Regions from separate parts of the Homo sapiens genome. Here region 1 is linked to region 2. Evidence: fine-mapped expression QTL. A gene starts in region 2. The other region holds a variant in brackets. All regions are shown on one strand. Distances are between the middles of the regions.

Evidence for each region. PIP is the estimated chance that this variant, and not a neighbour inherited with it, causes the effect. A credible set is the group of variants that fine-mapping cannot tell apart.
Region 1: its variant is the best candidate, but not a certain one, in a credible set for the expression of CKB in whole blood (INTERVAL, PIP 0.63).

Annotation. Positions count from the first base shown.
Region 1 is chr14:103,482,074-103,487,439 of GRCh38, reverse strand. All of the region lies in intron 14 of MARK3 (microtubule affinity regulating kinase 3), which reads right to left. Among named protein-coding and RNA genes, the nearest start is that of CKB, 38 kb to the left of the region's middle. The variant G/TTTTTTTTTTTTTTTG (reference allele first, on the strand shown) is at 2,377.
Region 2 is chr14:103,519,678-103,525,043 of GRCh38, reverse strand. It overlaps CKB (creatine kinase B), which reads left to right and starts at 2,214. Exons shown (of 8, transcript NM_001823.5): 1 at 2,214-2,278; 2 at 2,539-2,743; 3 at 2,867-3,021; 4 at 3,094-3,226; 5 at 3,610-3,781; 6 at 4,452-4,575; 7 at 4,733-4,922; 8 at 5,002-5,366. The coding sequence starts at 2,551. The coding sequence ends at 5,180. RefSeq lists enhancers at 1,087-1,972, 3,749-4,636 and silencers at 3,336-3,385, 3,526-3,595, 3,606-3,975.

The DNA of each region.
Region 1 (5,366 bases), 38 kb after region 2:
CAAGCATGGTAAGAGGGTGTGGACAGATGCTTTGCAGAAAAAAAATGGATCCTCTAGAGACCTAAGAAGGAAATGTAAATTTATTTTCTCATTATAAATTAAAAAAAAAAATTTTGTAGAGATAGGGTTTCGTCATGGCCCAGGCTGGTCTGGAACTCCTGAGCTTAGGCAATCCGCCCGTCTTGGCCTCCCAAAGTGCTGGGATTATAAATTATTAACTTGAGGCTGGGCGTGGTGGCCCACGCCTGTAATCCCAGCACTTTGGGAGGCTGAGGCGGGTGGATTGCTTGAGGCCAGGAGTTCCAGACCAGCCTGGCCAACATGGCAAAAACCCATCACTACTAAAAATACAAAAATTAGTTGGGTGTGGTGGCGGGCCCCTGTAATCCTAGCTACTCAGGAGGCTGAGGTATAAGAATCGTTTAAACCCGGGGGTGGTAGCTGCAGTGAGCTGAGATCATGCCACTAAACTCCAGTCTGGGTGACAGAGAGAGACTGTTTCAAATTAAAATAAATAAATAAATAAATAAATAAACTTTTTGACATACTAATTTTAAAGGCAATTAAATAAACTTTTTAGAAATTTAATCCATGTCACATCATGAGTTTCACAAAGCAAGCAACAAAATATTTCCGATTTTTCTGATTTCTACAGTAGGCCTAACACCCAGAAGGAAACAGTAAACTCAGTAAGATGTTTGCAAATTTCAATTTTGTACAATCAAGCTCACAAAAATCCTATTTACAACAGGCAGCCCCAACATCACAATGGTCTACATATATATTCTAAAAGGTCATCAAGCTAATTGTTATGAAATTCGAATAATATTTCCCCCCAGAAAAGTGTTAAAAATGATAGTTTTATTTCCTATTCTAGCCCACAATCTACATAAGCAAAACAGTAGCAGCATTACATTTTTTTAATAATTAAAAAATTTTTTTAAAGTTTTTGTGGGTTCATAGTAGCTGTATTACATTAATTTTTTTATTTTTATTTTTTTGAGACTGGGTCTGGCTCTACCGTCCAGGCTGGAATACAATGGTGTGATCTCGGCTCACTACAACCTCCATCTCCCAGGCTCAAACCATCCTCCTGCCTCAGCCTCCCAAATAGCTGGGACTACCGGCATGTACCACCACACCTAGCTAATTTTTGTATTTTTAGTAGAGATGGGGTTTCACCATGTTGGCCAGGCTGGTCTTGAACTCCCGACCCCAGGTGATGCACTTGCCTCGGCCTCCCAAAGTGCTGGGATTATAGGTGTGAGGCACTGTGCCTGGCACCCAGCTAATTTTTTTGTATTTTTGGTAGAGATGGAATTTTACCATGTTGCCCAGGCTGGTCTTGAACTCCTGGGTTCAAGCAATCCTCCTGTCATGGCCTCCCAAAGTGCTGGGATTACATGGTGGCGTGAGCCATCATGCCTGGTCTACATTTAAACCTTAATTGATAGAAATAGCAATGTTTTTCTTAAAATTCAAGTTGCATGAAGAGAGTTCCTATTAATCTTCCCAACTGTTTTGTATTCATGACTATCTTTTAAAATTAAAAAATATATATATTTTTATAGAGACGGGGGTCTCAGGCTACTTTGTCCAGGCTGACCTTGAACTCTTGGCCTCAAGTGATCTTCCTGTCTAGGCCTCCCGAAGTGCTGGGATGACAGGGCTTGTGAGCCACTGTGCCCAGTCTTGACTATCTTTTCTAAAACATTAATCCACTTAAGGTTACTAAAGGATAGGCACTTTGAATTTGTTGCTATGACCTCTAGCCCCTATCAGAACATTCTGATAAGAAATGTATTGGCTGCTGATTAAAAGCATACTCAAGTGACTGGGCAAAAGCAGAATTAAAAATATAGTCCAAGGACAGGCATGGTGGCTCATGCCTGTAAACCTAGTGTTTTGGAAGGCTGAGACTGGAGGATCCCTTGAGGCCAGGAATTTGAGACCAGCCTGGGTAACATGGGAAGACTTCATCTCTACAAAAAATAAAAAATTAGCCAGGTGTGGTGGTCCATGCCTGTAGTCCCAGCTACTCAAGAAGCCAACACAGGAGGATCATTTGAGCCCAGGAGTTCAAGGCTACAGTACACTATGATCATGTCTGTGACTAGCCACTGTACTGCAGCCTGGGCCACACTGCAAGACTCCATCCATCTTAAAAAAAAAAAAAAAAAAAAAAAAGCAGCCTTTTTTTTTTTTCTTTGAGATGGGGTTTTGCTCTTGTTGCCCAGGCTGGAGTGCAATGGTGCAATCTTGGCTCACCGCAACCTCTGCCTCCTGGGTTCAAGCGATTCTCCTGCCTCGGCCTCCCAAGTAGCTGGGATTATAGGCATGCGCCACCATGCCTGGCTAATTTTTTTTTTTTTTTTT[G/TTTTTTTTTTTTTTTG]TATTTTTAGTAGAGATGGGGTTTCTCCATGTTGGTCAGGCTGGTCTCAAACTCCTGACCTCAGGTGATCCGCCCACCTCAGCTTCGCAAAGTGCTGGGATTACAGGCGTAAGCCACTGTGCTCAGCCCTTTTTTTTTGTTTTTGAGACAGAGTCTTGCTCTGTTGCCAGGCTGGAGTGCAGTGGCGCTATCTCGGCTCACTGCAACCTCTGCCTCCTGGGTTCAAGTGATTCTCCTGCCTCAGCTTCCCAAGTAGCTGGGACTACAGGCGCATGCCACCACGCCCAGCTAATTAATTTTAGACAGGGTTTCACCATGTTGGTCAGGATGGTCTTGATCTCCTGACCTCATGATCCACCTGCCTCAGCCTCCTAAAATGCTGGGATTACAGGTGGGAGCCACCGCGCCCAGCCTAAAAAAAGCAACTTTTATATGTAGTCCAAAGATACATACGCTAAGTGTCCTCAATCCTTCTCTGCTCAATCTCTATGTGACTTGATGCAGGGTAAAGTGGATAAAATAATAAGCCACTTCACAATTTTGAAACTTTACAGTAATATCCAATATCTAAAATTTATTTGAAAGATTCTGGGCCTGGTGCAGTGGCTCATGCCTGTAATCACAGCACTTTGGGAGGCCAAGGCAGGTGGATCACTTGAAGTCAGGAATTTGAGACCAGCCTGGCCTAGTGAAACCCCATTTCTATTAAAAATACAAAAATCAGCCAGGTGTGGTGGTGTGTGCCTGTAATCCCAGCTACTGGGAGGCTGAGGCAGAAGAACTGCATGAACCCGGGAGATGGAGGTTGCAGTGACCCGAGATCGTGCCATTGCACTCTAGCCTGGGTAAAAGAGCGAGACTCCATCGCAGAAAAAAAAAGAAAAAAAGAAAAAAAAAAAAGAAAAGATTCTGTTTGCATTACTGTAACACCAGCACGTCACTTCTCTGGGGTCTTTAAATGAAGTAGTCTAAACAGTGTCGTCCGGGTATCTAAAGCATATGAAATCGTAGGAGCAGAGTGTCTCTGCTATGTAGGTGGTTTAGCAACATTATTAACTTGAAAGATTAGGTTTAGTCAGTGCAAACTAAGAAAATTCTGCATAACCTTGTCTGAACAGTCTATAATTAATAATGAAAGCTAACATTTGTTTGAGCACTCACTACGTGTCAGTGCTATGTGGTTTAAGACTCACTGCAAACCTATACCATCATGATAGAATCATACAATTGAAGGTGTAATCAAACCTTCTCATGCCTAGTTTACACCAACCATTAGTCACGCCTGGAATCTGGCCATTTTTCGAGAATAACATCAGAAGGCAGAATAATTACAGCAGAAAGTGGGCTGGCCTTCAGCACGACCAGTTTAAAACTAGTCTCAGAAAACGAATCACAGGTGTTTGTGCCAAAGTAACAACTGGCCCTAACCTATGCTCCCTGTGTCATTAACTTTATTGTTCCCACAGGAAAGCTGATAAAACAAAGATTGGCCTAGTAAGAACCAATTAATAAAACTAATTTTCAAAAGAAAAAATAATTAAAATTAATTATATTGCCTATGACGAGAAAAAGCCTTGCATTTAGTAAGCCTTTAAAATATCCTGTTTACAGTAGGATTTTGAAGGTAGTAAGGGCTTAAGATATGTGGAGTCTCTGGTTTAAACCTTCACACAGTTTTTAAAAAATCAGCCATCATTATTCTCATGTTGAAATTCCGTATGAACACTCATATAAAGAAGAAAACATTTAAGGCTAAATGTCGAAAATATTTAAGGCTAAAATTGGAACTTAACATGTTTGTTTCAGAAGTTAACATAGGTCCAGGCATCCTACAGCTCACTCATATTTTAAATTAGTGAAGAAATAAGATATATGGGTGGGTGAAGAGAGGGAAAAGGAACAATTTGCCGAAGAAGTCATCTGTGCAGGGAAAGCTAATTGTATCTCACTGAAGACTCAAGCATCAATTTTAAGGGAAAGCTGTCACATTTAGTGCCTTAACTAAAGAAGTTAAACCCAATAATTTTCCAGTCTTTTAATTCATTTATAAGATAGGAAAGGAAAGTCCAAATATTATTAAAACAATGGGCCCTGTCTTTTAAGGTTTGGCGGTGAGACTCTCTTTGACTAAAGAGAAAGACGACACCTTCAGAAGCAAAGTATTTCAATGACTGATGCTAAGAGAAGCAACGAGACAGGTCAGGATATGAAAGAGTTGGCCCCAACAAGGCAGGTGTCTCCAGGGGGAATGCAGAAAGGAAATATTGCCAAAGAAATTAAAGAAGTCTTAAATATTATTTCCAAAGAGTGAAACGAAAAATTTTAGGAAAAGAGAATCAGAAGACACAGGCATATATGCATGTGCCTGGTGTATGATACGTGTAGCACAGGATGGAAGCAGAGAGCAGATCTTAGTCTTAACACCCTTGAGGAGACTGACTCTGCACCTCAGACAGTCACATATCCTAAAGTTCAGAAGGAGCTGGGTAGTGCATTTTCAGAATTTAGAAGTAGTAAAGGTAATGAAACAACTTTTTTTTTTTTTAGATGAGTCTTGCTCTGTTGTCCAGGCTGGACTGCAGTGGCGCGATCTCAGCTCACTGCAAACTCTGCCTCCTGGGTTCAAGTAATTCTCCTGCCTCAGTCTCCCTGGTAGCTGGGACTACAGGCGCGTGCCACCACACATGGTTAATTTTCGTATTTTTAGTAGAGACGGGGTTTCACCATGTTGGCCAGGCTGGTCACGAACTCCTGACCTCAAGTGATCCACCTGCCTTGGCCTCCCAGAGTGCTGGGATTACAGGTGTGAGCCACTGTGCCTGACCATGAAACATTTCTGTAGTCCTGTAGACTACAATCTGTAACACCAGAAACTTCTAATTAAGTCTTCTATTGATATTTTCTATTAAGTCACTTTTGAACTAGAAGAAATTTGAAAGTTAAGAACTGAACTATAATACAAATCTACCAGAGAGTAGACTACTATTAAG
Region 2 (5,366 bases):
TGGCACCAGTTCCCTGGGCCCACTGTTCTTTCGCTATACTTTGTCTCTGTGTCTTATTTCTTTTCTCAGTCTCATCCCACCTGACGAGAAATAACCACAGGTGTTGGGGGGAGGGGCTGCCCCCTTCAGGAAAGGGGAAAGGGGGTCCTTTCCCATGGGGGACCTGGGAAGCAGGTTAGGCTCTCAGCCAGGAGGGTGAGAGAGGGGAGGGTTGGCCTTCTGAGAAGCTGCAGTTGCTGAAGACAGAGGAAGTCCTGAGTGTGGCCCCCAAGTCTCTCCCTCCCCCCAAGTCTGCCTCCAGGGGCTGCAGCTATCCCTTCCAGAAACAGAAACTTAAGCCCTTCAGGTTTTGTGGGGTAGCAGGTGGGCAGCTGCAGAAATTTCTAAAACTGGGCGAAGAGGCTGCACGGGGCACAGAGTGCAGGAATTCCAGGCTTAAGGGACACCTGCTGTCTGGCCAGCCCAGAGGGGCCGTTTGCCTTTTTACATGGGTTGGTTTTATTAAGTCTAAAAAATGCTGGCTTGGAACAGGACGAAGCATGCCAAGGAGCAAAGAGGCATGTGTCTCCTCTGCAGTGACCATGGGGATGAGACAGGAGAAAAGGCCCCCACACCGATGCTCACATAGGCAGAGGCGAACAGGCTTCCCCTGCCTTTGGGCCTTGGCTCTGGTGCCTTCTGCTCTGAGGCACCTATTCGGGGTCCCTTATACCTGGAACGCCACTGCTCTGTGTCCCCCTGGCCCCAGCAGCACCGATCTGATGTCATCTGGTTTGTTGGGCTGCTGGCTCATGGCCAGTCTTCTTCCAGCAGCAGGCGCTGTGTACCTCGCTGCCTGCTGTATCCCCAGCGGCTGGCACCTGTTAGGTGCTCATTGTGCCACTGCTGGAGGGATTTGTATCAAATATACCCACAGATAAGAGTTCCCCCCTTCTTTGCTTTATTCACAGAGCAACAGATGAGGGTCCCTGATGGATATTAACCCCACATCCTCCACTTCCCCCTCTTAACAGCTGCATAATATTCCACAGCAAGCAGATGCCTCCCTACCCTTGGCCACTCCCGCCTGATGGGGCATCGGGTTGTATCCAGTTATGTTTGTTTTTCCCTCCACAGATCTCTTGGTCCATTAGTGGAGAGAACTGAGACATCCTTTCTAAGGGCTGCATTCCTAGAAGGGGAGATTGCTGGGTCACGGAGTTCGAACATTGTTAACGTTAATAGATTCTGCCAAATTATCTTGCAAAAAGCATGCAGCAATTTAAGTTGCAGGCAGCGTGTGGACGCCTGTCTTCCCGCATTCCAGCTCAAAGCCAGCAATGGCTGGGGTCGATCTGGGAGTGTTGGGGGTAGGGGCAGGTGGAGTCACTGCTTAATTTGCATGATTCTGGTTATTCGTGAGATCAGTTTTTTTTTTTAATCGCACTTATGCTTATTGTTTATTAGCGTTTCCTCCCATCTTTGCCTGAAGTCTCCGGGGACTGCCTTTGGGGGTCGGGTAAACTTGTCCCCTGCGAAGAGGGCCCAGGGTTGGGGTCTGGAAACTCCGAGGCTGCACTTGCCAGCGGCCTCTTAAGGCCACAGCGTCCCCGTGGTTTCTGGCTCGCAGCCCCCCGAGACCCAGGACTTGTCCAAGGTCAGGGCACCGCGGGTGCCCCCGGGCTGGGCCGCAGCCAGACTGCGCTTCCCGCGCGCCTTCGCTTTGCACCAGGATCGCCCAGGAAACGCCTGCGGGCACCTTGAGGAAGGTCGGCGGCTCCGGGCCAGCTCGCACTGGCCGGGGGTGGGGCGGGGGCCGTACCTGCTGCGGAAGCCCCGAAAGCTTTCGCCCGGCCCCTCGCCGCCGCCGCGGGGGCTGGCTGGACTAGGCGGGCAGGCTCGAGGATGCGGATGAACCCAAGCGTCCTCGAGTGCCCGGAGGCTCTCCGCCTCAGTTTCCCGCCCAGAGGCAAGGGCGTGCGAGGGGATCCAGATATCCAAGGACCTGAGGTTTCGGCCTCGAGGTCTTGGGCGGGGGACTGGGCAGGCTGCGCGGGGTCCCAGCGAGGGGACAGCTCGGGTGGGCGGCCAGGGTGTTGGGGGCTGCGGGCGGCGGACAAAGCGGCGGCACCACCCCGCGGCGCGGGCCAATGGAATGAATGGGCTATAAATAGCCGCCAATGGGCGGCCCGCGTTGTGCCCCTTAAGAGCCGCGGGAGCGCGGAGCGGCCGCTGTTCGCCTGCGTCGCTCCGGGAGCTGCCGACGGACGGAGCGCCCCCGCCCCCGCCCGGCCGCCCGGTGAGTGGGCCCGGGGGCCGGGGGCGTCCGCGCCCGGGCTAGGGGCGCTGCGTGCAAAGGGGGCGCGTCGCCTGGAGCGCGCGCCGGACCGGCCGGGGGTCCCCGGCGATGATGGCGCTCCCCGCGCGCGCTGCGGACCCCGCTGACCTTGGCCGCGTCCCGGGGGGCGCCGGGGGGCCCGGCGGCGGGGGCCTGAGTGGTACGCGGGAGCCCGGGAACCCCGGCGTGCCGGTCCCCTCTGACCCCGCGTCTCCCCGCAGCCCGCCGCCGCCATGCCCTTCTCCAACAGCCACAACGCACTGAAGCTGCGCTTCCCGGCCGAGGACGAGTTCCCCGACCTGAGCGCCCACAACAACCACATGGCCAAGGTGCTGACCCCCGAGCTGTACGCGGAGCTGCGCGCCAAGAGCACGCCGAGCGGCTTCACGCTGGACGACGTCATCCAGACAGGCGTGGACAACCCGGGTACGCGACCCCTCGGGGCCGGGGTCCCGGCCCCCCCTCCCCCCGCGCAGCCGCAGGGTCCTCAGCAGCGCGCTCGGGCCCGGCAGTGACGTCACTGTCCCCGTCCCGCGCCCCCTCCCCCAGGCCACCCGTACATCATGACCGTGGGCTGCGTGGCGGGCGACGAGGAGTCCTACGAAGTGTTCAAGGATCTCTTCGACCCCATCATCGAGGACCGGCACGGCGGCTACAAGCCCAGCGATGAGCACAAGACCGACCTCAACCCCGACAACCTGCAGGTGCGGGGCTGCGGGCGGGCCGGGCGGGCGGGGCCGGGGTCTTCGGGCGCTCACTCCCGTCTCGCCTCCCAGGGCGGCGACGACCTGGACCCCAACTACGTGCTGAGCTCGCGGGTGCGCACGGGCCGCAGCATCCGTGGCTTCTGCCTCCCCCCGCACTGCAGCCGCGGGGAGCGCCGCGCCATCGAGAAGCTCGCGGTGGAAGGTAGGGGCCGGGCGGGCCGAGGGGCGGCGGCGGCCGCGTCCCCCTCCCGGCGCGGTCCCCGCCCGCTTTTGTTTACGTCGCCCGGGAGCGGCAGCCGCCGTCGCGCTCTTATCTGCGCGCGCCCGGGTTCAGTTTCCCGGAGGGACCGAGGGACGGAGGCCCAGCCCCGCGCCCACAGCGGCCTGGGGCCCAGGGAGGGCGGGTCCTGGCGCGGGGTCACCGCCTGGGACCGTCGCCCGGGCCGTGAGGACTGGACGCCCGCAGATCCGGGCGGGTGGGGCCCTCTGACGTCCCCCGAGGTGGGGCACGGGGGCGGGCGGGTCCGCGCTGCGGGCTGGAGGGGCGGGCGCGGGAGCCGAGCGTCCTGAGCGCACCCCTCGCAGCCCTGTCCAGCCTGGACGGCGACCTGGCGGGCCGATACTACGCGCTCAAGAGCATGACGGAGGCGGAGCAGCAGCAGCTCATCGACGACCACTTCCTCTTCGACAAGCCCGTGTCGCCCCTGCTGCTGGCCTCGGGCATGGCCCGCGACTGGCCCGACGCCCGCGGTATCTGGTGCGTGTCCCTCTGCGCCCTCTCGCGGCGTCCTCCCTCCCCGCTACCTCCGCTTTCCCTCTCGCCCCCCTCGCGGGGGTGGGGCCCCTCGCGGCGAGGAGGAGGAGGAGGAGGAGGGAGGGGCCGGCCGCGCTCCGGGTCTGGGTTCCGTGCCGCGCCTCCTCCTGCGCCGGTGACCTTGGCCGAGCAGGTGCGTTAAGGGACTGGGCCCCGGCCCGTGGGGGCTCAGGACTCAGCAACACCTCCCCACCCCGAGACGTGAGGTGGGGGCGGGGCTCTCTGGCGCCTCTCCCCGACGGCCCTGGGAGCTGGAGCTCTTTGTTTTCTTTTCTCACTCCTCCGCCGCTGGGATTCTACCAGGGGCTGGTGACGCCAAAGCTTCTCCAGGGGCAGGGCTCCTACCCCCACTGTGGGGGGCGGGTCGGGCTGTCCTGGCGGTCCCTGGCCCCGCCCCACCTCAGGCCACAGCGCATGATGGCAGCTGGGGTTCTCCTGCTGTGAGGCGTCCCGGTTCCCCCGCCCGCCCCGTGTTGGCGGGTGGAGTCTTGGCAGCAGCCTCCACTCCTGGGCATGGCAGGGAGCAGCACCTCAGGGACTTGGGAAGTTCCTTTGGTCTGGGGGCGGCCTGGGGCTTTTTTCTGGGTATGCCCTGAGACCAGCCCTCCCGCAGGCACAATGACAATAAGACCTTCCTGGTGTGGGTCAACGAGGAGGACCACCTGCGGGTCATCTCCATGCAGAAGGGGGGCAACATGAAGGAGGTGTTCACCCGCTTCTGCACCGGCCTCACCCAGGTGCCAGGGACGGGGCAGGCCCAGACCCCAGGGCCCCAGCAGGGATGTGGGTGCCCCAGCATCAGTCCCCCCGGGGGATTTCCGGCACTGGGGAGTCTCAGGGCCTGTAGGGGTTTCAGGCAGGCCTTCTCCCTCATACCCTCTTCTCCGTCTGCAGATTGAAACTCTCTTCAAGTCTAAGGACTATGAGTTCATGTGGAACCCTCACCTGGGCTACATCCTCACCTGCCCATCCAACCTGGGCACCGGGCTGCGGGCAGGTGTGCATATCAAGCTGCCCAACCTGGGCAAGCATGAGAAGTTCTCGGAGGTGCTTAAGCGGCTGCGACTTCAGAAGCGAGGCACAGGTGAGCAGGGCAGGTGCTGCGGCTTCCCGTGGCCTTTGGGCAGCCCTGTTTCCTCCGCCCTGACTTGCTGTCTCCCCAGGCGGTGTGGACACGGCTGCGGTGGGCGGGGTCTTCGACGTCTCCAACGCTGACCGCCTGGGCTTCTCAGAGGTGGAGCTGGTGCAGATGGTGGTGGACGGAGTGAAGCTGCTCATCGAGATGGAGCAGCGGCTGGAGCAGGGCCAGGCCATCGACGACCTCATGCCTGCCCAGAAATGAAGCCCGGCCCACACCCGACACCAGCCCTGCTGCTTCCTAACTTATTGCCTGGGCAGTGCCCACCATGCACCCCTGATGTTCGCCGTCTGGCGAGCCCTTAGCCTTGCTGTAGAGACTTCCGTCACCCTTGGTAGAGTTTATTTTTTTGATGGCTAAGATACTGCTGATGCTGAAATAAACTAGGGT